4 separate regions of the Homo sapiens genome follow, and regions 1, 2 and 4 are each linked to region 3. Evidence: fine-mapped expression QTL. A gene starts in region 3. Each other region holds a variant in brackets. All regions are shown on one strand. Distances are between the middles of the regions.

Region 1 (8,138 bases), 25 kb before region 3:
TTAAGTAGGCATTTGCCATTACTAGCCAGGTGGGTGGGAGGCGAATCCAAGGCAGAGAGAATAGCATATGCAAAGGCCTGGAGGCCAGACAGAGCCTGGCGCATTTGGCAAAGTTTTGAAGTTCAATTAGACTGGCACAGAGCCTGGGTTCCAGGAGTGATGCAGGCTGGGGCTGCAGAGGTGGAGGCCAGGGCTGGATCTGGAGGTATTGGGAATAGTGAGCCTCCCTCACTCCACAGGCAAGAGTGCTTCTGCTATGAAGCCTTGCCTGCGGTGATGGAGAGGCCAGCAGTATGAGGAGGGTGCTCCACCCTCATCCTCACCTTGCCCAGTGCCACTCTGCTTGGAGCTGCCGGCTGTCCATTAGGCAGCCTCAGTGCAAGAGGCTCTCTTTCCTCATGCGATACATGTCACATCCGGGAACGATCAAAACAGCTTTGCTTTGGCAAAACGTCTTGTGCTGCGTGTTTGTTCTTTGGAGTCTGAGCGTAACTCCTGTTGTTCCCGACACCTGTGATTTGCTGGTCTGTGACAGCCATTACCTGCTCAAAGTCTCTGCCTGCCACACAACCCACCTGGTGCCACCCCCATTCCTTCCTCTGCCATCCCCAGAGCAGTAAATGCCTCTCCAGGCCACAGGGGTTGGGGCCAGCAGTGAATCAGACATAGTTGGCAAGGATGGCCAATTTTAGTAATCACCTCTACCATTTGGGAACGTCTACTGTGCACCAGGTGCTTCGAATGCCTTGTTTTTAGTCCGCCCAACAACCCCACAGTTAGAGTTCATTTTCTGTATTTAACAGAGGCACAGAGAGGTTAGGAAGTGACCCAAGTCCACCATTTGATAAGTATGAGGAATAGGATTTGAACTCAGATCTCTGCACCATTGGCTGCACACTTGCCACCATGTCAGGCTGCCTCTCCAGCTCACTTGCTCACAGCTGCTGATCCTGAATGGAGGGGCCTGGGACAGCTGAAATTTGACATTGGCATTGGGGTCAACTCATGGGAGTCAGTCCATCTGGCCCCAGGACCTTCCATTCCTGAGGACAGACCCCCTTGGAGGTACTAGACCCCCAGTGTTGGTCTCCACAGCTTGGATCCTGACCAGCCCCTCGCCTGTCTCTTGCAAACTCAATCCTGTTAAGCTCTGACACCTCCAAGCTCCTTCCTGGGGTGATCCTTTAGCCTTCAACACTTACCCACCAAATCTCCACTTCGAGTTCATGTGTATCAAGCATCCAGTTCACTGTTATTATCATTATAATGGGGGAAGCACAGCCTCATGTAAAGCTTGAGGGCCCTTCCCTGTTCCCTGTACCCCTTTTCTTCACTTTCTGGGATCTCTGAGGGAACCAAAGGAGATTCAGGCCCTCCATTTTGTGATAAGTTCCTGGAGGGCAGAGCCCTATCTGACTTATTAACCTGTTTCCCTAGTGCTTGAACTGCAGTAGGTGCTCAGAAAACATATGCTGAGTAATAATATCCACCGGTGCTCTTGCTTATGGAGCTACACTGAAAATCTCTTTCACATGATACCATTTAGCTAAGACAGTAACCAATATAAAGTAGGTATTATTTTCCCCACAGATGAGGAAACTGAGGCTCTGAAACATAGAGCAATGTGCCATAGACCACAGCTAGGAGGTAGTGGGGCCAGGATTCAAAACCCAGGGTTGCCTGACTCTAAGCCTGTGCTTCTGAACACGCATCCTATACAGCCTCCTTAATACAATCCATGGATGAATGGAGGAGTTCTACGTGCCCTGCCCAGTCGACTGCCCAGCCTGACCCCTTCCCACAACCTCCTAGGATGCTAGAGTCCTCCACCCATGCTGCCCCCTCTTCTGCCCACAGGCTCAGAGCAAAGCCTCTCCCAACAAGGCTTATTATTTCTAATCTTAGGAGAAAAACCTCAGTTCAAAGGCATTTTCTATTCCATTCAAGTCAAAAAACAGTTCTCACTTTGCCTCTCTGACCCCCTACCACCCCCACCTCCTCCTCCAACTGGCGCCAATAACGCAAGATAAATCTTTCCTCAGAAATATAATAGTTGTTCTTCCTCTTCTCGTTGAAGCCTTTGCCAGGTAATTAGCATATGCTGACACCTTGATAGACGAAAAGAAAGGCATGAGATAATTCCCTTTTTCTTTAACCATTATAGTATGAAGCAGCCTTTCAATTTGCCAGTTACCCAATCCAGCATTCCTGGACGCAGCCCACCGTGTGACATGTTATTCTAGCTGATCCTACCATCTCTGGTATTCATCACCAACCCTGGGTCACACTTGATAGAGCAAATTCCCCTTCTTCACATTGACACTTTTCTGGGAGGAGGGGCAGCCAGGGTTCAGAGGGTCTGGAAATTGTGGGGATGATGTGGTCATACTTGGGTGGGCACCCCCAGCTGACAGCCTAAGGCCTTGCAAAGGCCTGCAGAGCCCTAGGGGTCACTTTCAGAAGCCCTCTCTCCTTCCCCTGTTCCTTTCCCGCTCCCTAAAAGAAGCTGGCCTTTGATCAGACTTTGGGAGTCCCTGTATTTAGTGCAGCAGGAACCTCAGCTTGGAGTGAATGGTTTTCTCTCTTCTCATCAAAAAACACACACACACAACATGCACAATGACACATACACACAAAACATGCACGCACACTACACGTGCACGTGTGCGCGCACACACACACTCCCACTCTGGGCTCATGGCCTGGGATCTTAGGGTTGCGCCCAACCTCTTTGGAGGGACTGTCCCTCTATGGCCATTTATATGCTCACAGGGTTGATTTTATCCTTGACGTTTTGAGGGATGAGGGAGAAGACGACACTTAATTCCTTCATTTCACAATGTAGTAAGTGCCTACCAGGCACTATTTTAGACATTGAAGATACAGAGATGAACAAGACAGGCAAGGGGCCCGGCCTCATGGAGCTTCCAATCCAGCCCGAGGAAGCATACAAGAAATAAGCCAGTAAAAGATATCATTTCAGATGGTGATATGTGCTTATTAGGGAGACAAAACCAAACAGGTGAGGTGATGGGGAGGGAGTGGGAGGACTATTTTAGACAGAGTGGCCAGAGGGCCTGAGATTTGAACTGATACGTGAACGAAGATGAGCAAGCCAGCCATGCAGGAGCTGGGGAAAACATTCCCAGAATGAACAGCAAGTGCAAGAGTTCACAAATGCACCAGGTCCTGCACTGGGTCCAGTTTCTTTGGAGGGATCTGTTCCACCCTACATAGCTTTGACTTTCGCTGGTACTACTGAGGGTGAGACAAGCAGCTTGCTTGTCCATTTGGTGAGGGTAGAAAAGTTGCTGCCTGGGTCTATCTGTTAGCTAGGACTTTCCCAGGCTAGGGACTACGCATCACGCATCTGAGCAGAAACCAGAAACCAGATCAACCCTGTTATCTTGCCAATGGCTGCCCAAGGAAACTTCCAGCCCTCCCATCCCTCAACTCCTTTCCTGAAGGACAGGTCCACTCCAGGCAGGAGGTTCAGTGGCCTTAACTTCTCTTTCCTGGTTTGCCCATCTGCTCCTCCTCTTGGCTGGGACAGGTTCCCGACACCCCCATGCTTGGCCCGGGGGATGGGATGGGGAGTGGGGAAACAGTGTGCCAGCCAGCCTTCACCAGTGCAGGCACACCTCCTTTCCTCTCAGTTCTGCTAAGATAAGGTAAGATTTTTTAAAGGAAACGTATCAACCAAACAGAGGGAAGAAAAAAGGGGAAAGAAGGGGGAAATGCAGATGCTGGGAAACGGGTCCACAGAGCTGAGGTTCCTGACTCTAAAGGAACTTACGCCTGGCCACAAGCTCACTTGACCTTCTGAGGACTTAATCTTCCACCACCACCACCTCTGTGGCTCCAGATGCAGGATGACCTTGGGACCGCACCCAGGTTGAAAGGTGCGGACTGGTCGCTGTGTTTGCTATTCTGTTGTGGGAGAAGGGTCACTGGGCACAGGCCCAGGGCCCGACCGAGCCTCAAGGAGCCTGTCCTTCCTCTGCTTCCCAGGGGCTCCTGTTGGGACTTCCACACGCCTCAGCCTCAAACTGGTCTCCCCACCTCACCCTGCCCCCACCCCAGTCTATTCTCCACACACAGAAACTGGAGTGATTGTTTTAAAAAATTATATGTGAATCAGATTATATCATTTATGGTTAAAAACTTCCACTGAATAAACACTATCATAGGCTGAAAAAGAAAGGCCTAGATACATGGGATGGACAGTATGAACAGCCGCCCAGGCCCCTGTTCAGAGAAGGGCTCGTTGCCCCTGGTACTGGCTTG[C/T]TGTTGGGAAATAGCCTCCAGCTCTAAGCCCCTCCGGGATTGCATCAACTGCAAAGAACTGCCTCATCCAAGGTCATGCCACTTGCGTGGGTCTCTACACCCAAGCACTGACTGATGGGGGAGATGAAGGATGAGCCATCAGCCCAACTCACGACAGCTCTAGAAGAGGCGTGTCCAGCACTGGAGTTCCTCATCCAGCCGGCCAAGGCCACTGCCGGGCCTGTGCTCATCTTCTCCCTCTGCCCATTCCTGCCTCCTGCCCCTCTTCCATGAGCATTGGTCTCCAGGGAACTCCTACATAAAATCATGCACACAAAAACAAAAGGGAAAAATTCTGCTGGCCTCCCATAGTGTTTTAGATTTTTAAAAATATAAAGCTATGTATTTTTTACAAGGACCAGCAATGCCTTACATGACTTGAGCCTGGCCTGCCCTTCTCACCTCATGTCACTGAGGCCTTCCTTGGCTACCTTGTCTAAAATTTCAACTTCACATAATTCCTTTTTTATCCTTCTTAGCACTTATCACTATCTATCATACTACATATATATATTTAAACTTATTTATCTTGTTTATTTTCTGTCTTCCCATTAGATCATAAGCTCAATGAGGGCAAGGGTTTTGTCTGTTTGGTTTCTCTTGTAACCCCACAGCTTAGCATAGTGTCTGGCACATAGTAGGTGCTCAATAGTTGCTGAGTGAATCAATAAATGAATCTTCTACCTATCACTATCTCACACAGTACCTGGAATATAGAAGAAATGAAATAAATATTTGTAAAAAAATAAATAGCCATGTCTGCAAGTTGGCCTCTAAGATCCTTTTTCGCTCTGTGGGGCTCCTTTAGTTCCCTCCAGTTTCCCAAGTTCTTCCTGTTGACCCCTCCAGGGCTCTGGTGACAGAATAGTACAAGTCTGTCCCTGCCACGTGTAAGCCAAGGATCACAGACTCTCTGACCATGGGCAGTGTCGTCAGTGGTTACAGTTTTAGAGACAAACTACCTGGGTTCAAATCTCGGTTCTACCACAGATGACCTTAACATCTGTGAGCCTCTCATCTGCAAAACAAGGATGACAGTACCTACCTCAGGGCTTCTGCAAAGTATTTATTGAATGCTTGTCTCCCTACTTGACCCTGAACTCTCAGAGGGCAGGAACCAAGTCTACAAGTTCACATGACTCCTTGGCACTTAGTAGGTGCCTGATGAACATTAGAGAGTGTATTTCCATATTTCCCATTCTACTCAGCACCAAGTATGGGCATGAGCAAAACTGGCTGGATGACACAGCAGAGGCAGATCCCCACTGGCCATGCTCTGATGGTTTCTGCCCATTCTCCTGGATTGAATTACCAGTTGAGAATTACCACTGTTTTCTCATTTGGTAGGTGGAGATAGGAAAAGGAAGTCTGTGGTGGTGACCATCATTCATCCTGTGCCCAGGGTTCTCTGCCTACCCCCAGATCCCCAAGCTACCCCACGGCTTCTCTGCTTGTGAACCTCTGACCAAACCCCAACCTTTGCTCTGGTTCCCCCTCTGTCACTCCAGAATCCAGCTGAGTACCCCCTCCCACCTCCACATGGCCTCTGACAGCTTAGGTCACATTGTTCTTTCCCCTTCCTGACCACCCACTGCATATATCGACTAAATCGTGCTTCCTGGCATTTGCTTCCACCCAGGCTGGCATTTGATTAGATTCTGCTGCAGGTTCTCATTTTACCTCTCTGTCAGATCTCCCCGAGTTGACTTTAATAGTAATAATAGTAATAATTTTGCTTTACATCTGGGAACCCACCGGGCACTCATACAAAGGGATCCCATTTCTTTTACCTCTCTCTGTCTCTATAACCATCCCAGAAAGTAGGCAGGGCAGAGGTCATCTTCTACATTCCACAGATAAGGCAACCAAGGCTCAGAGATGCTCACATCAATAACTCCTCACCTCAGCCTGTTCCCCTTTCACCATCTCAATAATTGGCACCACTGTCCACCAAGATGTCTAAGCCAAAAACTTGGGCATCTCTATCATTCTTCACCTCCTCCTTTCTTTTACAGCCCCTACCCTGCAGATGAAACCGAAATTTCTCTCCAGACCACTCACTCCTCTCCAGTTCTACCACCTTGGCCCATATGTGATGACATCATCCCTGCTCTGGAAGATTGCAAAGGTCTCCCTCCCAGCCTCTGCTATTGCCCCACCCTACCCCATTCATTCTGTACATTGCATCACAGTGGTCTTTTTCTGATGCATACACATTCATTCACTGAACTAATAGTTTTTGAGAGCCTATTCTGTGCCAGGCACTGTTCAAGATGCTGGGGGTACAGCAATGAATAAAACTATTGCCCTCGTGGGGCTTATATTCCAGTGGGGAGGTGAGGGGTCAATAATAAGTAGTCAAGTAAATGTATAGTATTAGACAGTGATCATTGCTATGGAAAGAAAGAAAGCAGAGGAGGGAGTCAGGGAGTATATCCTGTGGCAGGATATAGGCTTGCTATTATATAAGGTAGGGAGAAAAGCCCTCATTGAGCAGACATCTGAAAGAAGTGAGGGAGTGAGGCTTGCTGATACCTGGAGTTATTCCAGGCAGATGGAACAGCAAGTGTAAAATCCTGAGGTGGGATGGCACTTGGCAAGTTCATGTTTGAGAAAGTGCACAGAGACCAGTAAGGCTGGAGGAGTATGAGAAGAGGGAGAGATCTGGCAGAAGGCCACACCTTGCAGGGTCTATAGGCCATTATAAAGACTTTGGCTTTGACCCTGAGTGAGATGCTGCACCAGTGGAGGGGTTGAGCAGAGGCATGACACAATAATTTTAATTGGCTTACATTTTAACAGGACCTCTCCACCCACTGTGTGAAGAACAAACAGTAAGGGCACAAGGGTAGAAGTGGGAAGACTAGTTAGGAAGCCATTGCAGTAACACAGGGAAGAGATGATAATAGCTCGGACCAGGGTAGAGTCTATGGAAGTGGTAAGAAGTGGTTTGATGCTGAATGAGTTATGAAGGTAGAGCTGACAATGTTTTCTGATGAACTGCATGTGGGGTGTGAAAGAAAGGCGTCAGGAAGGATGCCAGGGATGACTGCAAATATGATTTTGTCACTCCATCAATTCCCCATTGTTCTTAGGTTTGTACAAACCCCTTACCATGGATTATAAGGTCCTTCATGATCTGAGCCTCCTCCTCACCTCTCACCCTCCCCACACCATGGCTTCATCTTCAGCAACAGTGAAGAATAATACTATTTAACAGTTACTGAATGTTAACCTCATGCCAGGTCTGGGCTAAGCATTTTACAAATGCCATCTCATCCATTCTCCACAACAATCCAATGAAATGGATATTATTATTAACCCTTATTATTAATAGACTCATTTTACAAAAGAGAAAACTGAGGCACAGAGAGATGAAATAATTTGACCAAGGTCACACAGCTAGCACATAGCAGACCCAGAATTTGAAGCCAGGCATTTGATTCCAAAGCTGTTTCTTTAACCATTATGGGAGATGGAAATTTCAGTTCTCCAATCACTCATGACTTCACTCTCTTAATCCCTGTGCCCTCCCAACAGGCAATTCCCTGGGCTTAGAATATTTTTCCTCCCATCCCTCACACATTCCTAACCCTCGATCTTTGTCTGGTTAAATTACCCTCCTCTGGGAAGCCAAGTCGGGTGAAATACCCCTCGTCTGTGCTCCCACAGTTGCCTGGGCTTGTTCTGTTACGGCTCTGCCCACCCTGTGGCCAGGCTGTTTATGGACCTAGGTCTCCCTTACTAGACATGAGCTCTCTGTGCAGAGACCAGATTTACCTGTCTCATAGCTGTATCCACGAAGTGAAGAA
Region 2 (8,000 bases), 21 kb after region 3:
GATCTCAACTCCTCAACTCACTGCAACCTCCGCCTCCCAGGTTCAAGCAATTCTCCTGCCTCAGCCTCCCAAGTAGCTGGGATTACAGGTGTCCGCCACCACGCCCAGCTAATTTTTGTATTTTTAGTAGAGAAGGGGTTTCACCATGTTGGCCAGGCTGGTCTTGAACTCCTGACCTCAGGTGATCCACCCACCTTGGCCTCCCACAGTGCTGGGATTACAGGAGTGAGCCACTGCGCCCGGTCTATAAATATTATTATTATTTGGAATCACTTGCTGGTTGGGTCCTGGGAGAGGGGACTGGGTGCCCTCACTGCTTTCCTTTCTCCTAAAAGAGGAACAATGTAAGATAATATTTTAGGACTTTGGAAACAAGAGACCTGGGTTTGTGCTCAGCCTTGCCATTTTATAGCAAGTAATCTGGGGCAAGTTACTTAAACTTTCTGAGATTAATGTGTCACCTATAAAATGGGAATAATAGTACATAACTCATAGGATTCAACTGAACGTTTTTTGTAATGCTCCTAGCCTGGCATCTATGCACGTTAAGCATTTAATAAATAATAGTCTCTATAATGAAGACGATAATCATGAAAATGTCCACTGATTCTCCTCCCAGGTGTGGTTTCTGCAGCTGACACCCCAGATAAGAAAGAGCATTTGGTCCTGGTGGAGACAGGAAGGTAAATTGCCCCTGCCCTTGACCTGGGGCTCCCCTTCCTGGAGCAGAGCCCATACTCTGCAACCTGGCCTGCTGGGCCATTGCCCACTTCCTCAAAGTTTCTTCCCTTGCTCCAGGATGATTTGGGTTGGGTGTTGCTGCCCTCTGCTGGTGGCTCTGGGAAGTCTGGTCCCCATGCATCTGGGCCTGTCGGAGCTGGCTCTGATTCAGGCCTCTGGGGTCTCAGGACCCTGTATCTGCAAGGAGAGGGCCGGCTGGACTTCACGGCATGGAACGCAGCCATTGGGGGCGCGGCTGGTGGGGGCGGCACAGGGCTGCAGGAGCAGCAGATGAGCCGGGGTGACATCCCCATCATCGTGGATGCCTGCATCAGTTTTGTTACCCAGCATGGTGAGTAGGCACTGGCTGGTACTGAGCCAATGGGGGTGGGGGGTGGGGGTGATGAGGGGGTGGAGAACGTGAGCACAGCCAGGGTGGAACGTGAGCACAGCCTGGAAGAGCTTTGCCTCCAGAAACTGCAGCTGGACCCCAGCTGGTCATTTGACTCTTGGCAGGCTGCTTTGCTTTTCTGAACCTCAGTTCCATCATCTGTAAAATGGGGCCAACGGTCCTCATTTTCCAGGATAATTGTGACAGTGAGACAATGCCTGTCAAGCCTTGAGCGCAGGGCCTGGCATGTAGTAAGTGTTCAGAAGTTTCGTCAGAGTGTGGAGTAGGGGAGGAGCACTGAAAATGTGACTGAGGACACAGAGCCATGGCAAACAGCGAGCAGCTGCGAGGTGAGAGCTGAGCTGTGCAGCACATTCCCAGAAGTTTTAAGCAGAATTATTCTGTGTGGGAGGTTTTCTGGGCTTAAATGGTCAGCTGTGCAAGTGGCCCCCATAATTCTTTGTGAGTTTTTTTGGTTGTTGTTGTTTGCTTTTTTTTTGAGATGGAGTCTTGCTCTGTTGCCCAAGCTGGAGTGCAGTGGCATGATCTCAGCTCACTGCAACCTCCGCTTCTCGGGTTCAAGCAATTCTCCTGCCTCAGCCTCCCAAGTAGCTGGGATTGCAGGCGTGCCCCACCACACCTGGATAATTTTTATATTTTTAGTACAGGTGAGTTTTACCATGTTGGCCAGGCTGGTCTCAAATTCCTGACCTCAGGTGATCCACCCACCTTGGCCTCCCAAAGTGCTGGGATTACAGGTGTGAGCCACCACACCTGGCCCTTTGTAAGTTTTTTATCCTAAATAAGGACCGAAAAGAATCTATTTCTCCTGTGAACCCTCTTTAGAAGGCTGGACTCTTAAGAAGGAAAATTCACAGAAAACTAAGGTGGGCAGATCCCTAGATCATTTATAATACCTAATACAATGCAAGTGCTGTGGAAATAGTTGTTATGCTGTATTGTTTTTATTTGTATTTTGTTGTTGTTATATTGTTATCTTGGGGTTTTTTTCCAAATATTTTTGATGTCGGTTGAATCTGCAGTTGTGGAGCCCATGGATACAGAGGGCTGACTGTAAGGAAAAAAACAGCGCCTCCACAAACATACACATAATTGTTACTAGTCATGGGACATGGAAAGTCAGTGGCTAATAACATTTTCCATGCCTTGGCAGTGGCCTTGTTCAGTGACCTCCCCCACTCGCTACATCCTTATCCTCTTCTCAGCCTCTCTCGTGTTCGAAGGAGGAAATAAGTCAGAGGCCCAGTGAGAAAGCCCTGAAGAAAGAATATGGGGCCGGGCGTGGTGGTTCAAGTGTGTAATCCCAGCACTTTGGGAAGCCGAGGCAGGTGGATCACCTGAGGTCAGGAGTTCAAGACCAGCCTGGCCAACATGGTGAAACCCTGTTTCTATTAAAATACAAAAATTAGCCAGCCATGGTGGCGGGTGCCTGTAATCCCAGCTACCCAGGAGGCTGAGGCAGGAGAATTGCTGTGAGGTGAGGTTGCAGTGAGCTGAGATGGCACCACTTCACTCCACCCCGGGTGAAAGAGCAAAACTCTGTCTCAATTAAAAAGAAAGAATCTGGGTGTTCATCCCCTCCCCTCCAAGGTTCCTGCACCACCATTGTTTAGTCAGCATACATTGGTTGAGCTGCTACCGTGTGTCAGACACTGGGGATATGGCAGTAAGCAGGGTGGGTCCTAGGAGGGTCCTAGGAAGCTTATTTATTACCCATCTCTTAGGTAATAAATAAGAAAACAAATATAGTCTGTTCTTGTTATTTGTGGTAGTTATGCTCTAAGTCACTGCAAACATTTAATTAGTGAATACTGGATCACTGCCCCAGAGGAAATACAGGGTTAGCTTCCTGCTAGCCTCTGGTTACAATAACATTTTAGTCAAGTGATCAATATGTATCCTTGTTTTGTGTGTTTTTCTGTGTAAAGAGACCTTATTTTATATATATTGTTTGATTTGTTAACACTGAACTCAAGGCCAACAGCACTGTAACTCAAGCTAATCTAACACATGTATTTTCTCTGTAAGGCATGTCACAGCTTTCTCACACGTAGAAACACTAGACAGCATTTCAGCACTATACTTGGGCCATTTTAAACAGTGAAGTCACCAACAAAAAGCACAAAAATATGGCTGTAAATATACCATTAAAAGGATACACTTGTTTAGAGTAAGAACATGCACATTGGGGAGGGGACTTAAATTTTTCTTCACTCTGTTCATAAATGATGATGAAAATGCCAAAAGTATTGATTTTGGGGTTACAAATAACTTTTAGCAAGTAGGAGAATGTGCAGATATGGAATCCACAGATAATAAGGGTGGACTATAAAGTGATTTCAGAGAGTGCTATTTAAAAATAAAAGTGGTGAGGAGATACAGTGTGATGGGGGTTGTACTTGTGACAGTGAGGTCAGGGAAGGACTTTCTGAGGATGAGGACTCCAGCAGAGACCTGAGAATCAAGAACATGGAGGCATAGATCTCCTCCTCTCTGAATCCCATGCCCCCATCAGCCACATACCACATAGGGAGGCCACAGATGGGCCGTGGTGGGTGGTGGTAGCCTTTGCACCATGGTGAGCAGAGACGGCTGGCTCTCCTCAGGGCTCCGGCTGGAAGGTGTATACCGGAAAGGGGGCGCTCGTGCCCGCAGCCTGAGACTCCTGGCTGAGTTCCGTCGGGATGCCCGGTCGGTGAAGCTCCGACCAGGGGAGCACTTTGTGGAGGATGTCACTGACACACTCAAACGCTTCTTTCGTGAGCTCGATGACCCTGTGACCTCTGCAC[G/A]GTTGCTGCCTCGCTGGAGGGAGGCTGCTGGTATTCCTAAGATCCCTGAGAGCCAAGGCCCAACCAGGATCTCTGCCTTCCCCCACCAGAATCCATGGTTTGGCAGCCCTCCGCCCCATCACTTCCCACCCTGGGGGATCATCCAGAGACTTGGCTCAGGGGGAGGTGGGAAGGGGGCAGAGACACATCCATCCTGCATTTGTGCCTAAAAATCCCTCCCTCTGTACCAGCTGCCACTCTTTCTTCCCGGGTCCTCCCCAACCCTCCTCCATTCCATCCCCAGAGCTGCCCCAGAAGAATCAGCGCCTGGAGAAATATAAAGATGTGATTGGCTGCCTGCCGCGGGTCAACCGCCGCACACTGGCCACCCTCATTGGGCATCTCTATCGGTCAGTATGGCTAGACCCTCTGCAGAACCCTTCCTCACTTCAATCTGACCCTGCACTTTCATTCATTTATTCATTCATTCATTCATTTGTTCATTCCACAAACAGTTGTTAAGTGAAGGTATCATAGCACTAAGGTTCAGAGAATGGATTTGAGGGATCAGGCAGACCTAGGCTTTAATCTGGTGCCGTCATTCTAGCTGTGTGACTTTGGGTAAGTTACTTGTTCTCTCTGGGCCTCAATTTCTTCATTTCTAAAAGGAAGTAATGGATGATGTAATGAATCATATCCACCTCATAGTTTATGAGAGAGTTAAATGAAGGCTGGGCGCGTGGTGTCTCACACCTGTAATCCCAACACTTTGGGAAGCAAGGTGGGCGGGTCATCTAAGGCCAGGAGTTTGAGACTAGCCTGGCCAACATGGTGAAACCCAGCCTCTACTAAAAATACAAAAATTAGCCTGGCATGGTGGTACATACCAGTAATCTCAGCTACTCAGGAGGCTGAGGCACGAGAATCGCTTGAGCACAGGAGGTGGAGGTTGCAGTGAGCCAAGATTGTACCACTTCACTCCAGCCTGGGTGACAGAGGGAGATCTTGTCTCAAAAAAAAAAAAAAGAAAAAAGAAAAAAGGAAAAAAAAAGAACAAAAAGAGTTAAAATTCATAAAATTCTTAACTATAGTACATGCCAGTACATCCGGCATGTCATAAGCCTTCAGAAATGGTTAGCAATCAATATTATTTTGTTTTATTATGCGATGTCAGGGAAAGGGTTAGATATAAGAAACACAAAAATGAATAAGATGCACATCTACCTTTACCAATCTGTTAGGGAGACAGGCCTTTGAGCAATTCTGGGGAGAAGCCATTTCTGTATTGCACTGATTATACTATATTACAGGGGCCAGGTATGGTGGCTCACACCTGTAATCCCAACATGTTGGGAGGCCAAGGCAGGAGGATCATTTGAGCCCAGGAGTTGGAGACCAGCCTGGGTAACATAGTGAGACATCCCATCTCTATAAAAGATAAAAATAAATAAATAATAAAAATATACTATATTATAGGGATTGGTCAACTACAGGCCCATGGGCCAAATCCAGCTTGTTGCCTATGTTTGTAAATAAAGTTTTGTACATAAAGTGTAAAGCCACACCCATTCATGTATATATTTTCTTTTTTTTTTTTTTTGAGACGGAGTCTTGCTCTGTGGCCCAGGCGGGAGTGCAGTGGCGCAATCTCGGCTCACTGCAAGCTCCGCCTCCAGGGTTCACGCCATTCTCCTGCCTCAGCCTCCCGAGTAGCTGGGACTACAGGCACCCACCATCACGCCCGGCTAATTTTTTTTGTATTTTTAGTAGAGACGGGGTTTCACCGTGTTAGCCAGGATGGTCTCGATCTCCTGACCTCGTGATCCGCCTGCCTCGGCCTCCCAAAGTGCTGGGATTACAAGCGTGAGCCACCGCGCCCGGCCCATGTATATATTTTCTATAGCTCCTTTCATGATGCAGCAACAGAGCTGAGAGTTAGAACAGAGACTGTCTGTCCTGCAAGCCTAAAATGTCTACTATCTGTCCCTTTACATAAAAAGTTTGCTGATTCTTGCCTTATCTGTCTCCCCTAGACTGGGAGCTCCTTGAGGCCAATATTATCTTACTGCTGTATTCCAAGCACTTAGCCCAGGCATACAATAGGGACTCAATAAGTGTTTGCTGAATGAGTGGCTACACTGATGAAGACCGTGGCACCCCTCTGCAGGGTGCAGAAATGTGCGGCTCTAAACCAGATGTGCACGCGGAACTTGGCTCTGCTGTTTGCACCCAGCGTGTTCCAGACGGATGGGCGAGGGGAGCACGAGGTGCGAGTGCTGCAAGAGCTCATTGATGGCTACATCTCTGTCTTTGATGTAAGGCTTTCCTGACCCCTAACCCACAACCCCTTTCCCCTACCCTTGCAGGACCCAGAGACTCTGGATCCTGATCACCCCAACAAGCCCCCAGCCCAGGCCTCTGGTGGCCAGCTATACCAGGAACTACCTCCCAGAGCCCTGGCCCTTCTTCTCCCACAACTTCACTTCCAACATCCTCACCCCCTTGGTTCTTAGCTCTTCTGGCCTCCAGCCCTCTTAAACAGGTCCTCCTTGGCCTTGAGATCTTCCCGGCAGATCCTCTTCCAGCACCCCAACACTCTCTTTTGGCTCTTTCACAGATCGATTCTGACCAGGTAGCTCAGATTGACTTGGAGGTCAGTCTTATCACCACCTGGAAGGACGTGCAGGTAACTCGTCCTGACCTTAGTCTCCTGAATGGGGCAGGAGGAGACATCAGGACAGGAAGCTGACTTTCTGCCCAGTTGAGGAAGTTTCCAGCCTGTCCTTCTGGACACTAGCACTCAGCTCTTTGGGAGACAGGGGGAACCCAATGAGAGAAGTGCTTTGGGGAGTGGGGTTTGGTTAGGGTTTGCTCCATTTGTTCCACCATGAGGATTCTTCCTGGTGATAATCTTGGCACTGGATAGTTGGTTTTGGTTTTCTGTGGGAACATCAAGTGAGACCATACTACTAAGTGTAAGAGATCCAAGGACGAGTTAGTAAAGTCAGACAAAGCAGTGAGAATAATAATAATAAATATAATAGCAAACATAGCTGAGGACTTACTATATTCCAAGCATCTCTAATCTCATGTTAGTATGATACAACTCCATGAAGTAGGTAATCTCATTTTTTTCAAATAAACGGGTTCAGCGGGTCATTTATTCAAGGTCACCCTGTAGCGAGTGGCAGAGAGACCAGGCAGTCTGACTCCACATCTGTCCTCCCAACCACTATGATGCCTTGGGAAGTACATGTGCAGCCTAAAGATGCAGTTCTGCCACTCCCAGAGGTCTCCCTTTTAAGAGCCTGAGTGACATTGGGGTTGGGAGGAGACCTTTGTTGGAAGAGTCACTTATGAGGCAACACGAGGAACCCTCTGACTTTGATGTCTTTTGCACCCTTTTTTTGCCCTTCTGACTTTTTTACCCCTCCCCTCAGCTGTCTCAGGCTGGAGACCTCATCATGGAAGTTTATATAGAGCAGCAGCTCCCAGACAACTGTGTCACCCTGAAGGTTGGTCCTGAGGGGACTGGAGGGGAAATAAGAGGATAGTGAGGTTCCAGGGGCAATAGCCTGACCAGCATGAATTCTCTGCTCTTGCCCTGACCCCAGGTGTCCCCAACCCTGACTGCTGAGGAGCTGACTAACCAGGTACTGGAGATGCGGGGGACAGCAGCTGGGATGGACTTGTGGGTGACTTTTGAGATTCGCGAGCATGGGGAGCTGGGTGAGTATGACCACGCCTGTGTGTTCATGCATGTGTATATGCGTGTGTGTGGTTGTGTGGTCAAGGTCATCAGTGACTTCATGTTACCAAATATGAATGGTAACTCATGGATGACTCATCCACTCATCCATGCGAGGGGACATTCAACACAGTTGACTCACTCCCTCTTTCTCAGTATTCTTCCATCTTGGCCTTAGTGACCCCCACAAGCTCGTAGTTTACCTTCTACCTTAAAGGGAGCTTCTCTTCCTCTTTTGCCCAGACTCCAAATGTTGGAGAGACCCACGGCTCAATCCTAGGCCCTTTTCTCTCATCTATCTACATTTCTCCTTGGATGAATTAACCCATTCTCATGGTTTTAAATGCCATTA
Region 3 (8,114 bases):
TGGAGACCAAATCTCATACAAGCCCTCCAAGGGCCTGCATGGCCTGGCCCCTGAGATCCTTTCAGTCTCAGCTGGTCCCAAACTCCCTGTCTCTTTGATCTGTCTCCCTTCCTCACCAGGCTGACTCCTACCTCAGGGCCTTTGCACTCGTGGTTCTTCTGCCTAGAACACTCCCTCCCATCCCGCTTAACTCCTACCCATCTTTCTGAGATCTCAACTTAAGCAGAGCTCCCTGCAGAAGCCTCCCAGACCCCCAGGCCAGGTCAGCTGCCTCTGTTATATGCTCTTACAGTGCTTCCCTTCAGAAAATTCATCTTGGTTTGTAATTACACATTTATTTGGGGGTTGTTTGATAAATGTCTCACTTCTTGAGCAGGTCATGTTCCCTAAAGTCTGCTGAGCACGTCATTGCATCTCTAAACCCTTGAGCAGTGGTTGGTCCAGAAAAGATGATTAATAAAAACATGAGAAATAAATGAAAGGATTGAATGGGAGTCTTCCTTCCTGTAAGAAACATGCTCGGCCGGGCGCAGTGGCTCACGCCTGTAATCCCAGCACTTTGGGAGGCCAAGGCAGGCGGATCACCTGAGGTCAGGAGTTCAAGACCAGCCCCGCCAACATGGTGAAACTGCGTCTCTACTAAAAAAAACCACAAAAATTAGCCGGATGTGGTGGTGGGCGCCTGTAATCCCAGCTACTAGGGAGGCTGAGGCAGGAGAATCGCTTGAATCTGGGAGGCGGAGTCTACAGTCATACGAGATCGCACCACTCCACTCCAACCTGGGCGACAGAGGGAGACTCTGTCTCAAAAAAATAAATAAATAAAAAGAAACTTGCACCTTGGCATCCCCCTAGGCCCTGTCCCATCTCATCAGGACCAAATGTGGGTGATGGCTGTGCCTTTTACCATCCAGAGGGTAAGGGCAGGAAAGGAGTGTGACCTGGAGGCCACTGGAGACCATGGAGGCGATCAGGAGTTGCAGGGGTGACAGGAAATTGAGTTACAAAAGTGATGGAACAGACAAGATGACAACTGGGGACCCTGGGGAAAATACAAGGGGTACAATGTGGTCTAATTTGGCAATAGGATGCCACAGGCTGATTGATTAAAATAGGTAACGGGATATGCCAGAGTGATGAAGAAACAGGCAAGCTGGGTGCATACCAGAGTTATCATGGAAGTAACTGGCAAAAATAGGAACAAGGAACAGGAAACACTTTGAGCACTCATTGAATGTCAGGTCCTTTCCACATATTACCCATATATTTCCATAGATTAATCTTTACAACCCTGTCAGGCACTATTCTCTCTCCTTTTTTCAGAAAAGGAAACTGAGGCACACAGGGCAAAATAGAGATGAATAATCTGCTCAGGTCACAGCTGGTAGAGGTGGCATCAGGGCTTTATTTTAGAGACTGTTTTTTTGTTGACCTTTTGTTTTAGTTTTTGTTGTTGTTGGTGGTGGTGTTTTGTTTTGTTTTTAGAGACAGGCCTCACTGTCACCCAAGCTGGAGTGCAGTGGTACGATCTCGGCTCACTGCAATCTCCACCTCCTGGCTCAAGCAATCCTCCCACCTCCACCTCCTGAGTAGCTGGGACTACAGGTGCACACTACCACACTTGGCTAATTTTAAAATTTTTAGTAGAGACGAGGTCTTGCTATGTTGCCCAGGCTGGCCTCAAACTCCTGCTCTCAAACAATCCTCCTGCCTTGGCCTCCCAAAATGCTGGGATTACAGGTGTGAGCCACAGTGCCTAGCCGAGAGACCTTGTTCTTAATTACTGCATACCATCCACTTTTGGTGAACAAAGTGGCCTCCAAAGTGATTGTGGCTTAATAGTCTATCATTTGAGTGGGGAACAAATCGAGACATGGAAGGGGCTATTGAAGAATTCCCTTCCACATCTCCTCATTGCTTCATTCTTCCTCTTCCTCTGCTCACTAGTGTCCCTTTTGTCCTATGTGTTAAGATTAAGATTTAAGATTTACTAATTTCGGCCGGGCATGGTGGCTCACGCCTGTAATCCCAGCACTTTGGGAGGCTGAGGTGGATGGATCACCTGACAGGAGTTTGAGACCAGCCTGGCCAACATGGTGAAACCCTGTCTCTACTAAAATACAAAAATTAGCTGGGTGTAGTGGCAGGCACCTGTAATCCCAGCTACTCGGGAGGCTGAGGCACAAGGCTGAGGCACGAGAATTGCTTGAACTCAGGAAGACACAAGCCAGGGGCCAGAAGCCTCCACCTGCCCCATATCATTGAGCCAAAGAAGGGAAGTGGGGTCTGAGGGAGGAAGCCAGGTCTCCCTCTCTGTGGCTCTGCCCCATCATCTGGCATTGGTGTCCTTAACTTGGAGTCAGTGGACTTGGATGGGAAAAGAATATTACTTTCACTAATCTCTAGCTGAAATTTAACATTTCCTCCAATTATGACAATAGCAACAAACCAGTCATTTTAGCCATAACTATGGCTTTGTCACCAGTAGAAATCACATATATTTTTATATCATATTACAATATTGCAGATCTTTTGAAATACCATTTATGCTCATCACTGCATCAAAGTTATGTGAGGTATCAACCTACCACTAGATCTTATTTAAAGCATTAATAAAGAAGCACATATATTACTATATCACATCGGTTTTATATGTGTATTACAACATAATTGGTTTCCTTTGCAATCCTATATATTTTATTTTATGCATTTTAAAATATTATTCTGAGATGAGACCACATACTTTACCGTATTGCCAAAGGAGAACATGGCACAAAAAGGTTCAGAACTCTTGCATCTAGCCCCTGACCCAAACTCCCCGGCATCCATTCCTCAAAACTCCCTGTGCCCTTTACTGTCTTTTCCTGCTCCCTTATTTTGCTGGGTTAGTCTGAGTCCTTAAAGAAGAAGCTGCCAAGGCAGAATGCAAGGATTTGACTAGGGGAGATGCCTGTGAGAGAGGAAGGGAGCCTGGAGCTAGGAGAGCTGTGAAGGAGAGAGGGAAGGAATAAAGGTTGAGAGGAGCATCCTAAAACACCAGTCAAAGGAAAGTTCAGCAAAGCCATTGGGAAATCTTGATCCAAAGTCAGCTGTCAAAGGAGTCCCCTATCTCCCAGGAATGGGTCTGCCTTAGATCTCTGCTGAGCTCTGTCACTGGCTGGGAGCAGCCCAGTGGGAAGCTGGCCTTAGATTTCAGAGAGAAGCAGCTGGGGCCATTGGTTAATTTCACTCCTCACAGTGTAAGATCTGTGAGGAGCATTCTCACTGCCACCACAGTTGCCCATCTGAAAAAAAGGACATGGTGCAGGGGTCCTGTCCAGGGTGGTAGGTGAGCATGGTAGTTATAGATATAGACTTGGAGGGTTGGCTATTTTCTAGCTGCAGAGTCTTGAGCAAGTTATTTAATGCTCCCTGTCTCCTTATATGTAAAATAGAGGTGATAAAATTTCCTATTTGTAGGGATATTTGTGAGGATTAAAGTTTGCAAAGCAATGTTTACATAGATCCTGGAGCACGGTCAGCTCTCAATAATTGGTAGCCCTTATTATGGCTATTGCAATTATTATTTTATTACTATAATTCTCTTTCTCAAAGGGAAGGCCGGGAAAGTGGGGCTCCAGTAGGTTGAAGATGACAGTCCCTCCCCTAGCTGAGGCAGCTGGAAGAGGTGGGAACCACTTCCTCCCACTCCCCTCTTCTTCCCCTGAGGCAGGGGTCTTCCCCTAGCTACTGACAGTTCCTGTGTCTGCTGACTCACAGCCAACTTCCTCTCATACAAACAGGAAAACACAGCCGGCCAGCGCCCCCGCCACCCCCAACACATACACACACACACACACACACACACACACACACACACACACACACACACACACAAACACCCCCCCCCCACACCCAAACACTGGTCCTGCTCAGAGAGGGAAGTGCCTCCGCCCCTGGGAGACAGGCTCCAGGACCGGGGTTCCGGCAAGATTAGCGAAGGAGAGAAGGGCCATTCCTCTTCAGGCCTCCCCGGCATCCCCCCTGAAATTTTAGGGTGGGAGTTGGGGAGAAGGGGCGGCTTCTCCCATGAATGAAACAGCTGCTTGCTTGGTCACTGAGCTTGCAGGGCGTCCGCCTGTCCCAAAAAGGCAGCCCCAAACCTTGGTTTGGAAGTAGGGATGTGCCTTGCGGACCTTCATCCCTCGAAGGAACCTAGGCCGGGCCCTTGGGGATGGAAGTGGGGAGAAACAGACGGGTACCCCTCTGCTGGGCCTCTGCGCTTGTTGCCCAGGCCAAGTCTCAATTCTGGATGTCCAGCTTCCGTCCCCACACTAAACTGGTTGCCAGGGTCCAGCCACCCTTCCGGGCGTGGGAGAGGTGCCCTGGGGGATTAGGGCTCGACCTTTCCTCCTCCCTTTTGGCAGGACTGGAGGGCATGGGAGCAGCGGAGAGGATGCAAAGCCGTCCCTGGCACTCTCCCTTTCTCAGTTTCTACCTCCGTCCCAGTCTCCGTCCCGGTCTCTGCCTCTTTGTCCCTCTCCCTGAGGTTGTCTTCGTCCCAACGTGTTCTGGTCCTTTCTCGGCCTGCGAGAGGGCAGACTGGGGGCAGACTCGGAGATAAGCGCGGCGGTTGGGCAAGAAGCCCAAACCCTTTGGAGGCCTGCGCTTGCACAAGGAGTGGCCGGGGCCCCGCGGAGGGAACCGGCCGGGCGGGGCGGGGCTGGGCCCGTCGAGGGAGGGCAGAGGGGAGGCGGGGCCGGCGCGGCGGGACCCAGAACCTCGGACGAGCGGCGGGCACCCGCGAGCGGACGGCGGCCGCGTAGTGAGGTGAGGACCCCCGCGCCCCCCGGGTCCCTGCTTCCCAGACTCCTCCCCATCACCTTCTCGAGGGCCTTCGTGGGCTCCCAGGCCCCCTCGGCGCCGGCGGCCCTCCCCATCCCTGCCACGACCCGCCCCTCCCTCCTGCTGCCCGGCCTCTGCCCCATCCCTCCTCGCCCCCTCCCTCGTCGCAGCCTGCGCTGCCCGCCACTGCCCGCCCCGCCCCCGCCACTCCTGTCCCGCGAGCACCTCAGCTCCCAGCCCCGTGCTGTCGAGCCCGGCCTGAGTCACCGGGAAACCGGGCCCTGAGTCAGGGCCCGAGGCTCAGCACGCGGGCCCTGGCTTGGGAATGAGGCCCAGCTGGAGAGAGGCAGAGGGAGGCCAGCAGTGATGCTGGGACGGAGAGGGCGTCCTGGTCACCGACAGAGCACAAGAGTAACAGGGAGAGAGCCTAGGCCGAGGCGGAAGACAGAAACCCAGGCTCAGAGGCAGACAGAGACACAGATACAACTCAAGATCTGGTTAGAATTGTAGACTGAGTCAAGGACAAGCTTAATAACAGAGAGCAAAACAGGGTGGGACAAGGAGAGGGACAAAGAAGAATTGAGAGGTTGAGATGGAATGGGGCAGGGACAGTGACAAGGCAGAGATAAAACTCAGGGGCCACAGAATTAGAGACAGGTCTATGAAATAGACCAGGGTCAGGGTCGGGGTCAGGCTGGTGGAAGGGGGACAGAGCACAGAGACCTGAGCCCAAGGGAATGAGCAGGGAAAAGGCAAGCTCAGAAAAGGAAGGCTTGGAGAAAGCAGAGGTGGGGGGATGGCATTTCACACTGCCAAATCGCTACAGGGCATGTGCACACACAGGTGAACAGCATGTGAACATGCTGCCGGTGGGCAGAGAGTCCAGAAGCCTCTGGAGTACCCCTGACCAGAGGTCAGGCCTCATCTCTCTGGCATCCCCATCCTTATTCTTCAATTAGCCTCCACCCAGGGCCGGGACCCCACACATTAGGACTGGTTAGGGCTCTCCCGGCAGCCTGACCAAAGCAGGCAGGATGTGGAGGCGGCCAGGGCTGGAGGGACAGGAAGGAAGTCTGAGCAGAGACAATAGGTGGAAGGGGAGGAGGGACTGGGAACAACCAGGATTAGGACGGCAGGCCTGCATACATCGGCTCTGGAAACAAGAGGGAGGGGGCGTCTGCACCTCCTTCCTCCTATCTAGGCTGCCCCTCTCCCTACCTTACTCCAGAGCTGATTGGCCACATCATTGGCCCCTCCTCTGCATCTCCCTATCCCACTCTGACCCACAGCATTCTAGCATCTTGTCCCATGCTTACTCAGTTGGATGTGCAGTCAGGCAGGAGCAGAGCTTTGACCCAGACCCAGGGTGGGCAGGAACTGAGGGGCCAACTCTAGCACTGACTTACTGTGAACCTGGGGCAAGCCCCTTCCCCTCTCTGGGCCTCAGTTTCCTTAACTTCAAATGAAGTCCCTTCCCTAAGTAGAGAGCCATTGCTGTTGTTCTGGGATGGCTCTGCTTCCAGATCGCAGGCCTTTCAGCATCTTTCTTTGGAGGAAGATTGGAGGCTGGTGCTCACTGTCCAGGCCTCAGACTCTGGGGCAGAGAGGGGGATTCTCAGCCTGAGCCCTCCCTTCACCCTGCCCCTCCCCCCAGCAATGGCCTGAGCCCCCATGGCTGCCCCTCAGGACCTGGACATCGCTGTGTGGCTGGCCACGGTGCACCTGGAGCAGTATGCAGACACGTTCCGACGGCATGGCCTGGCTACAGCAGGTGCAGCCCGGGGCCTGGGCCACGAGGAGTTGAAGCAGTTGGGCATCAGCGCCACAGGGCACCGGAAACGCATTCTACGCCTGCTACAGACAGGCACCGAAGAGGGCTCCCTGGATCCCAAATCAGATAGTGCCATGGAACCATCCCCCAGCCCAGCCCCGCAAGCCCAGCCCCCTAAGCCCGTGCCGAAGCCCAGGACCGTGTTTGGTGGACTCAGTGGCCCTGCCACCACTCAGAGACCTGGGCTGAGCCCAGCCCTCGGGGGACCAGGAGTGTCCAGGAGCCCAGAGCCCAGCCCAAGGCCTCCTCCTCTCCCCACTTCCTCCTCTGAGCAGTCTTCAGCCCTAAATACTGTGGAGATGATGCCTAATTCCATCTACTTCGGCCTGGACTCAAGAGGCAGGGCACAGGCAGCTCAGGACAAGTGAGTGGAGTTGGCTCCCTAGGGACTGATGCTGGGAGGAGTGGGGAGGAGAGCATGAGGGGGACGGAGGCGGGGAGCAGGGCATGAAGGCTTGTTCTTCCTCCTCTCTCCTTAAGTAACCAATAGACCTTTCCCTTCAGGGCCCCAGACAGCTCCCAAATCTCTGCCCCCACCCCTGCCCTCAGGCCCACAACAGGCACAGGTAACTGGGTTATCACGGGTTGGGGGAGAGGGATAGTGCCGGCAGGACCTCATACACTCCCAGCGATCTCCTCTTCCTTGTGCGTTCCCCTCTCCTCCTGCCAGTGCACATCATGGATCCTGGTTGCCTGTACTATGGTGTCCAACCTGTGGGGACTCCAGGAGCCCCCGACAGAAGAGAGAGCAGAGGTGTTTGTCAGGGCAGGGCTGAACACAGGTGAGTACTAAATAGGGAAGTGGTGGGAGGGAGGAGCAGGTGAGTCGGTGGCGGCCATGTATCCAGTTATTCAACAAATGTGCATTGAGTATTCACCAGCCAGGCACTCAAGATACAGGATGAGTATCACAGACCTAGTGCCACCCTCAGGCAGCTTGTGACTCAGTGGGACAGACAGGGAATAAAACAAGTAGACAAACCAATGGTCATATAATGGAAAATTGGGAGAAGTGCTTTTCTTTCTTTCTTTCTTTTTGAGACGGAGTCTTGCCTTGTTGCCCAGATTGGAGTGCAGTGGCACAATCTCGGCTCACTGCAACCTCCCCCTCCTGGGTTCAAGCGATTCTCCTGTCTCAGGCTCCCGAGTAGCTGGGATTACAGGTGCGTGCCACCATGCCCGGCTAATTTTTATATTTTTAGTAGAGATGGGGTTTCGCCATGTTGGCCAGGCTGGTCTCGAACTCCTGACCTCAGGTGATCCTACCTCCTTGGCCTCCCAAAGTGCTGGGATTACAGGCATGAGCCACTGTGCCCAACCAGGAGAAGTGCTTTTCATTTTTTCATTCAACAAATATTTATTGAGCAACTATCATGCACCGGATGTAGATGCTTGGGATAGATCAGCGTACACAGAAATCCCTGCCCTTGTGGGGAGATAGTCTATTAACAATAAACAT
Region 4 (8,138 bases), 47 kb before region 3:
CACTTCTGGAGGCCAGAAGTCTGAAATCAAGGTGTCAGCAGGATTGGTTACTTCCTGGAGGCTCAGAGAGAAAATCTGTTCCATGTCTCTCTCTGAGTGCCAGAAAGGTTCTTACCCTTGTCTGAGTGCACTAGGAGGGGCAAAAGGCAGTCAATTGTGGTCTCCCGCCCTCAAGAGCTTCCGGTGGCTGCAATCCTTGGTTTGTAGACACATCACCCCAATCTTACCTCTGTGGTCACATAGCATTCTTCCTGTGTCTGTGTCTGTGTCCCCTCTTCTTAGAAGGACACCAGAGTCTTTCAATTAGGGTGCACACTAATCCAGTGTGACTTCATCTTAACTTGATGACATCTGCAAAGACCCTATTTCTATATAAGGTCACATTGACAGGTACTGGGAGTTAGGACTTGAATATATTTTGGAGGGAGTGGGACACAATTTAACCCTCAACAGACTAAGTCTTTGCCAACTTTTCCTTTCTCCATGAGTTCTTCCCTGATCTGTCTCCCTAGACTGGTTAAAGTCAGGGCCTCTGGCATGTGCTCCCCCATCATGGCACTTAGCTCACTTATTATTATCACTTCTTTAATGGTCTCTCTTCCCAGCTCTGAGGGGCTAGGGCTGTCCATTTCTTACTCACCATCATATCCCCAGCACCTGGCACAGTGCCCAGCTGTGACAGGATCTCAATAAATGCCTGTTGAATTAATTAAACCATTTATTCACATAGTGCCATACATGAACCATAATTCACATGCATGAGCACAGATACCTTACATATGTGTGCAAACATGTAAATCAAGGGTACACACAGACACATGAAATCTATATACAGTGTACACATACATGCCAGGCCCTGAATAGAGTTCAGCAGATTCCAATTAGCCAACCAGTCATGGATGAGTTCCAAGAAAGCCCAACCCTTCTCTAAGTGCACTGGGAGAGGCAAAAAGGGGTCACCTGTGGTCTCCTGCCCTCAAGGGACTGATGGACTAATTGGAAAAACAAGACTAATATATGATGAGAGATACCATAGAATTTAGTTATATTCTGTGAGCTGTGAAAGCTCAGAGGAAGGAGCTCTTATTGTAGGCTGGAGTAGTCCAGAGAGGCTCCCTGGGGGAGGTGAGAGTGGAGCTCAACCTTCCTATGTGGGCAGGATTTGGACAAACAGAGAAGAGAGAGGGGAGAAGGGGAGAGAAAAGGAGAGGCATGAAATCAACATGTACAGCAAAGGCCCAGGGGCCAGTTCATGGGACCAGTCTGATGGAAGGAACCCATGCTAGCAGCTGTGTAAGGAAGGGAGATCTAGATGACAGAGGGCCTCAGTGCCAGTTGGAGGTTCTCCAGCTTGTCACAACACCGGGTAGTCCAGGCTCTATCTGCTAGGTGTGGGGAGCTATTTCTCCAGAGCTTAGTGACCCCAGCTTCAAAGGGCTGGGGGGAAGGCAGGAACATGCTGACTGTGTATCTCAAGCTATGGGAGCATGAGGCAGGCCCTGGGAGGACTCCTCCTCCTCAGGAAGCCCTGAGTGGCAGCAGCACCTGCTAGAAAGGCAGAGTCAAGCCCAGTGACTCCCTGCCTGGGAGAGGTATGTGACGAGCTCGCAGAAAGCTTCAGGGACACCTTTGTTGGCAAAGCAGCTCCTGTCAGCCCCCAATGACAGGGTGGGTATGGGTGGCCATCAGGTGGAGAGAAAGCCTCTCAAAGCTCCTTCCCAGCCCCAGAGCCCTGACACTAGCAGGTCCCTTGAGACAGGCCTTAGAGCTCCTGGCCTCTCATGACTCTAGCTTTCTGGCCTCAGAGCCCCAGTGGTGACAACACCCAGCTAAAGCACTGAGTTGAGCTGCGGGAAGTGGCAAGAGTCCTGCCTATGAAGTATTTTGCAACATTTAAGAGCAGGAGCTCTGGACATTTGGATTCAAATCCCAGCTCCACGCCATTCTTGCTGTTTGTTCTTGGGCAAGTACTCAACCACTCTGAGCCTGCATTTCCTCATCTGTAAAATGGGGATAATTGTAGCTCTCTCCATCAAGGTTATGATGCTTGAGTGACTCTCACTAACTATTCAGGAAATGGGAGCTACGTATTTGTCTAAATGCTCCGATTCCATCTGCATTAATATTAGTGGCTGATGTGCAGTCAGAGCCCAGGACATCCGATCTCAACTCAAAAGGCAGACAGGAAAACCTCACAGGTTGTCCAGGCTGCAGAAAAACACCTTAGTATATAGGCATCTAAGCACCTTTCTCAGGTCCTGCCACAGAGCACAGCAATGTCCCCTGCCCCTCTCCCATGCCTCCCACAGCCCAGGGGACCCGAAGTAGACAACGTAGTGAAAGCTGATGAGGTATCTGTTTCATGGCCATAGCATGCCCTGCCCAACTGGGCCTGAGCCTCTTTCTGACTGGGGTGTATCCTGGGGCTTTAGCCTAAGCTCAGATAAGGCCAAGAAGTAGAGAGAAGAGACTTAGAAAGGAAGAGGGGGCAGCAGTACCTGCCTCTCATAAGAGAGGCTTTGGAGATGGTGAATTTCTTTTTTTCAATACAGAAAGAAATGATCATTTGTCATCTAGGTTTAGGAATCCTGCAGCAACAGAGAAGGGGCCTGGGAAGTCAATATAAGGCCTCTATCACCCTTCAGGCCTCTGTCTGACCTTGAAATTGTCCATGTCCTAGGGATTTGGGGCCAGGAAGTAGTGGTTGCCATGGAAACTTGGAGAAGCTCCCAAGAAGAGAGTGGAGACTGCAAGGAAGAGAAGCGGGGCCAGAGGTTAGAAAAGAGAAAATTTGGCTTGGGCCTGGGTCCTTCCTACTGTGGACACCACTTCCCCGTCCCTTCATGCATTGCTCAGAAAGGCCCCAGTAGCGAGTAGGGGAGAGGTAGGCAGTAAGTTCTGTGTTTGAAAGGTGAAGTGATGTTCTTGAATCTATAGTGATGGGGTTCTGGAAAACCCTGGGGCACCTGGGTGGGTCACTGAAGAAGATCTGGGCAACCAGGTGGAGCTGGAGCCAGGCAAAGGGTGATATTCACCAGCTCCTGGACATCTGTAGCTACTGGCTGTTCAGACAACATGGGAGACAGCCCTCCTGCAAGAAGCAGGAGCAAGGTGAGTGGTCCAGTCCAAGTAAGCACTGGAAATGTGAAAACGGATGATCACCCCTGCTGGAGGGCTGGCCGGCTAAGCAGGCTCAATGGAGAGGGAAGAACAAGAAGAAGCCCACAACTGGACAAAAAGGACAGATGGAGGGGACAACACGAAGGGAGCCAGAGGATAAGGGAGGAGAGTTAAGGGAACACGCAGACAAGAAA[G/T]ATCTAGGGCAGGTGGACATGGGCCATTCCCCAGGCCACAGGGACTCAGGGATCTCTCACCCACATCCATCCAGAAGGCCAAAGACAGCCTCATAAAGGGGTGACAAGGCTTTCCTGGCAGTCCCCTTCCCAGCTCTTCCTAAGGACTCAGTCTGCTAATTTGATACCATTTATTCAAGCTTACCCATGGCCAGCCACAAATCCTAGATTACTGAGGAATCAGAGGCCAATTTTCTGGGCTTGCTTTAAGGTGAAATAAGGCACTCACAACTCTAGATAGCCAAGCTCCTAGAAGAACTCATCCTAGAGTGGTGCGCAAGCCCAGGAATGTCAGAGCCCACTCTTGAACTTCTCCTCCTCTCTCAACAACCAGTCCCCAATTTCCTAGCCAAGACACAGTGGGATATGCGGGGGTGGGGTGGAGGCAGTCCTAGATGTCTTTTTCTCTTCTTTCTCTTTGGCCCCAGAGAACCCTGTCCTCCAGGCTGCTGGGCCCCAGGGAGCCTCTGTGAAACCCCATTTCCTCTCCATTCAATGACAAAGTCCCTCCCCTCAGACTCTCTGACTTCTGTCCCACATCCTGAGCATTTCTAGGCCAGAACCTCCAGCCACCAGGATCACAGAAGCCTGTCGGCCCTGCAGCTCCAAGCAGGCAGAAACGCTAATTGGTGTTAATGGAGACCAGGCCAGAAACTCACAAAAGATCCCCTCTTCCTGACCAGAGCCAGGCCTGGGGCACAGCCAGGCTGCTGGCTTCTGCTATCTGCTAGTAGGAGGAGGGGATGACGTGGGGGAGAGTGCGCAAGAGTGGGGTGACCCTCTGGGGCTCCCCTCACCTGAGCCTCCTATACACTCAGCAAGAGGCTGGCTTTTCTTGCGGCCCCTTAAAACAACTCCTCAGGTAGACCAGAGCACCTTAAGTACTTTGCCCCCTCAAAGCCTGCCCTATATGCTTATTTTAATCTAATCTTGCTTGGAACAGAAAGCTCTGAAATCAGACTGCCTGTGTTGGTATCCCAGTAACACACCCTAATATGTGCGAACTTGGACCAAGAATGGTGCCTCTATTTTCTTGTCTGTGAAAAGGGAGTAATACTACCTACCTCACTGGGTTGTTGTGAAGATTAAATGCTATCCAGAAAAAGCTCCTAGCATAGTTCCCAGCATGTAGTAAGCACCCGCTCAATGAATGGTAATTGTAGTTCTATGATTATGATTATTATTTCTTGGGCTCAGTTCCCTTTGTTGTGGGAAGTTCCTGTTCCAAGACTTCGACACCGAACATAAAGAATGGAATAGAGCAGGCACCCCAGAGAAGTTTGTTGAATAGATGAAAGGAAGAGAGAGAGGGAGGAAGGGGGGGAGGGGAGGAAGTAGAGGGGGAGGAAGGGAGGGAGGGAGGGAGGGAGGAAAGTGGATGCATTTATCAGAGGTAAAACCACTCTTATAAGTAGATCACTGTTTAACACTCCATCTAATAGACCGTCTGTCATTGCCTATAATTTTACCAATGTTGACTAATTCCTTTGAGTAAAGCACTGCCCTCTTCCCATTGAATCCCTTTAAAATGCAAACTGTCACACTTTAGTTTGAATGAATTATAAGATTGACTGAGAAGAGATAGTTTGAAAGCACTAGAGCCTCCGTGGGGAAGATGGGAATTTTGACATGGAAAGTGCCAAAGGAATGGAACAATTTTATAGGAGGCTGGCTCTAAGAAAATTGAGTGCAGGACACTGCAATTTCCCTTAGTAACAGTTCAGATCTGGCTGAACCTCATATTCAAGAATGTCTTTCCTTGTCTCTGTCCCAAATCCCTCATGCTGTGGATTATAGGACAAAATGATCATCTATTTCTCCACGTTATGGGCCCAGCACAGAAGGTATGACTGTATTTGTTCCTGGAGATTTCTTTTTCTCATGGCAGGAACTATCCATATGCAATCTCAATCCTAAAGTGATTTTCATTTGCCGGGGAAATTTGAAGACTATCTCTTGCCAGTCTGAGGTTAAACACAGAGGGAAATCTAAATGCAATTTTCCTGTTTGAGAAGCAGTTACAATATTTTTAAGCAATTGAAGCTTCAAAATTTCAAATGCAATGTGCAGTTAGGCCTCAGCTACAGGAGCTACAGATTTTTCAAAGTTTACAAAACAGTGGAATATCTCACTGGCTTCTCCCTGAAGCTGAGTCTTTGACTGTTTCATAAATGAAGATGTTCTGGGAGACTTGGTGCAGTTTTATTGGCGTTCGGCTTTTGGCTGGGGCCTTTTAAAGTAAATGTTACATGGGGAAAACGTAAGAGGAAAGATGTTATAACAAAGTGTCAGAGCAATAACACGTTTTTAATAGCATTATTTATCAGCATTTATTGGTGTTTGGAGTTAACAAACACTCTGGTCCATCCCCAATGAGCGTTTGCAGTAAATTTAAAGAACTTGTTTTGCCTTTGGCACAGTGAAGATGACCCAACTAGGATCCTTGTGTCATTTTACACAGATGGTCATGGGCAGAGACCAACTTTTGGAGACGGGGGCTGAGAGCATACAGATACCCTTAGCCAGTTCTCATATTTTCCCTAACCCATTTTCCATGGCTGGAGAGCCCAGTTGCTATGGTCTAAATGTTGGTTTCTCTTCAAAATTCATAAGTGGAATACCTAATCACCAATGTGATGGTATTAGAGTTAGGGCCTTTGGGGATGATTAGATCATGAGGATTAGTGCCCTTATAAAAGAATCCTCTTGGCCAGGCACAGTGGCTCATACCTGTAATACCAGCATTTTGGGAGGCTGAGGCAGGAGGATTGCTTGAGCCCAGGAATTCAAGACCAGCCTGGGCAACATAGCAAGACCCCATGATATAGTTTGGATATGGGTCCCCACCCCAAATCTCATGTTGAATTGTAATCACCAGTATTGGAAGTGGGGCCTGGTAGGAGCTGATTGGATCAAGGGGATATATTTCTCATGAATGATTTGGCACTATCCCCTTCTTGGTGCTGTTCTCATGATAGTGAGTTCTCATGAGATCTGGTTGTTTAAAAGTGTATGGCACCTCCCTGCCTCTTTCTCTCTTACTTTTGCTCTGGCCATGTGATGTGCCTGCTCCCCCTTTACCTTCTGCCATGACTGTAAGTTTCCTGAGGCTCCCCTAGAGGTTGAGAAAATTCCAGCATCATGCTTCCTGTACAGCCTGCAGAACCATGAGCCAATTAAACCTCTTTTCTTTATTAATTATCCAGTCTCATCACCTAAGGTCAGGAGTTCGAGACCAGCCTGGCCAACATGGTGAAACCCCATCTCTACTAAAAATACAAAAAAAAAAAAAAAAAAAGATAGCCAGGTGTGATGGTGGGCACCCGTAATCCCAGCTACTTGGGAGGCTGAGGCAGGAGAATTGCCTGAACCCGGGAGGTGGAGGTTGCAATGAGCCAAAATCACGCCATTGCACTCCAGCCTGGGTGACAAGAGTGAGACTCTGCCTCAAAAAAAAAAAAGAAAAAAGAAAAGAAAAAATTATCAGTCTCAAGTATTTCTTTATAGCAATGCAAGAAGGGCCTAATACAGAAAATTGGTACTGAGGAGTGGGGCATTGCTACAAAGATACCTGAAAATGTGGAAGCAGCCTGAATCCCAGAACTTTGGGAGGCCAAAATAGGCAGATCACTTGAGGTCAGTACATTGAGATCAGCCTGGCCAACGTGGTGAAACTCTGTCTCTACTAAAAATACAAAAATGAGCTGGGCATGGTGGTGCATGCCTGTAGTCCCAGCTACTTGGGAGGCTGAGGCACAAGAATCGCCTCTGGGAGGTGGAGGTTGCAGTGAATTGAGATCGCACCTCTGCATTCCAGCCTGGGCAACAGAGTGAGACTCTGTCTCAAAAAAAAAAAAAAATGTGGAAGTAACTTTGGCACTGGGTAACAGGCAGAGGTTGGAAGAGTTTGGAGCCCTCAGAAGAAGACAGGAAGATGAGGGAAAGTTTAGAACTTCTTAGAGACTGGTTAAATGGTTGTGACCAAAATGCTTATAGTGATATGAACAATGAAGGCCAAGCTGACAAGGTCTCAGATGGAAATGAGAAACTTAGTGGGAATTGGAGCAAAGGTCAAGCATGTTATGACTTAGCAAAAAGCTTGGCTGGACTGTGTCCATGCCCTAAGGATATGTGGAAGTTTGAACTTGAGAGTGACGACCTGGGGGCTGGGCCTGATGGCTCACGCCTATAATCCCAGCATTTTGGGAAGTGGAGGTGGGTGAATTGCTTGAGCTCAGGAGTTCAAGACCAGCCTGGGCAACATGACAAAACCCGATTTTTACACAAAATATAAAAATTAGCTGGGCATGGTGGCTTGTGCCTATAGTCCCAGCTCCTCAGGTGTCTGAGGTGGGAGGATCACTTGAGCCTGGAAGGTGGAGGCTATAGTGAGCTGGGATCACACTACTGAATTCCAGCCAGGCAACAGAGCCAGACCATGCCTCAAAAACAGAGAGAGAGAGAGAGGACGTGATGACCTAGGGTATCTGGAGAAATTTCTTTCTTTCTTTCTTTTCTTTTCTTTTTTTTTTTTTTTGAGACCGAGTTTCGCTCTTGCTGCCCAGGCTGGAGTCCAATGGTGTGAGGCTCACTGCAACCTCCGCCTCCCAGGTTCAAGCAATTCTCCTGCCTCAGCCTCCCAAGTAGCTGGGATTACAGGCATGTGCCACCACAGCCGGCTAATTTTGTATTTTTAGTAGAGACGGGGTTTCTCCATGTTGGTCAGGCTGGTCTTGAACTCCCGACCTCAGGTAATCCACCCACCTTAACCTCCCAAAGTGCTGT

Evidence for each region. PIP is the estimated chance that this variant, and not a neighbour inherited with it, causes the effect.
Region 1: its variant is fine-mapped to the expression of ARAP3 in whole blood (INTERVAL, PIP above 0.99).
Region 2: its variant is fine-mapped to the expression of ARAP3 in whole blood (TOPMed, PIP above 0.99).
Region 4: its variant is fine-mapped to the expression of ARAP3 in whole blood (INTERVAL, PIP above 0.99).

Annotation. Positions count from the first base shown.
Region 1 is chr5:141,703,968-141,712,105 of GRCh38, reverse strand. It overlaps LOC124901092 (a long non-coding RNA gene), which reads left to right. Exons shown (of 2, transcript XR_007058973.1): 1 at 1-7,264. It overlaps LOC124901093 (a long non-coding RNA gene), which reads right to left and starts at 6,305. Exons shown (of 3, transcript XR_007058974.1): 1 at 6,229-6,305; 2 at 4,440-4,581. The variant C/T (reference allele first, on the strand shown) is at 4,288.
Region 2 is chr5:141,657,994-141,665,993 of GRCh38, reverse strand. ARAP3 (ArfGAP with RhoGAP domain, ankyrin repeat and PH domain 3) reads left to right here. Exons shown (of 33, transcript NM_022481.6): 18 at 620-683; 19 at 909-1,072; 20 at 3,739-3,951; 21 at 4,205-4,310; 22 at 6,068-6,215; 23 at 6,518-6,586; 24 at 7,341-7,415; 25 at 7,515-7,629. Among named protein-coding and RNA genes, the nearest start is that of FCHSD1, 11 kb to the right of the region's middle. RefSeq lists a silencer at 753-822 and an enhancer at 6,933-8,000. The variant G/A (reference allele first, on the strand shown) is at 3,922.
Region 3 is chr5:141,678,868-141,686,981 of GRCh38, reverse strand. It overlaps ARAP3 (ArfGAP with RhoGAP domain, ankyrin repeat and PH domain 3), which reads left to right and starts at 4,752. Exons shown (of 33, transcript NM_022481.6): 1 at 4,752-4,809; 2 at 6,479-7,019; 3 at 7,160-7,221; 4 at 7,326-7,437. The coding sequence starts at 6,496. RefSeq lists a silencer at 4,703-4,752.
Region 4 is chr5:141,725,435-141,733,572 of GRCh38, reverse strand. No RefSeq gene overlaps it. Among named protein-coding and RNA genes, the nearest start is that of ARAP3, 47 kb to the right of the region's middle. The variant G/T (reference allele first, on the strand shown) is at 3,315.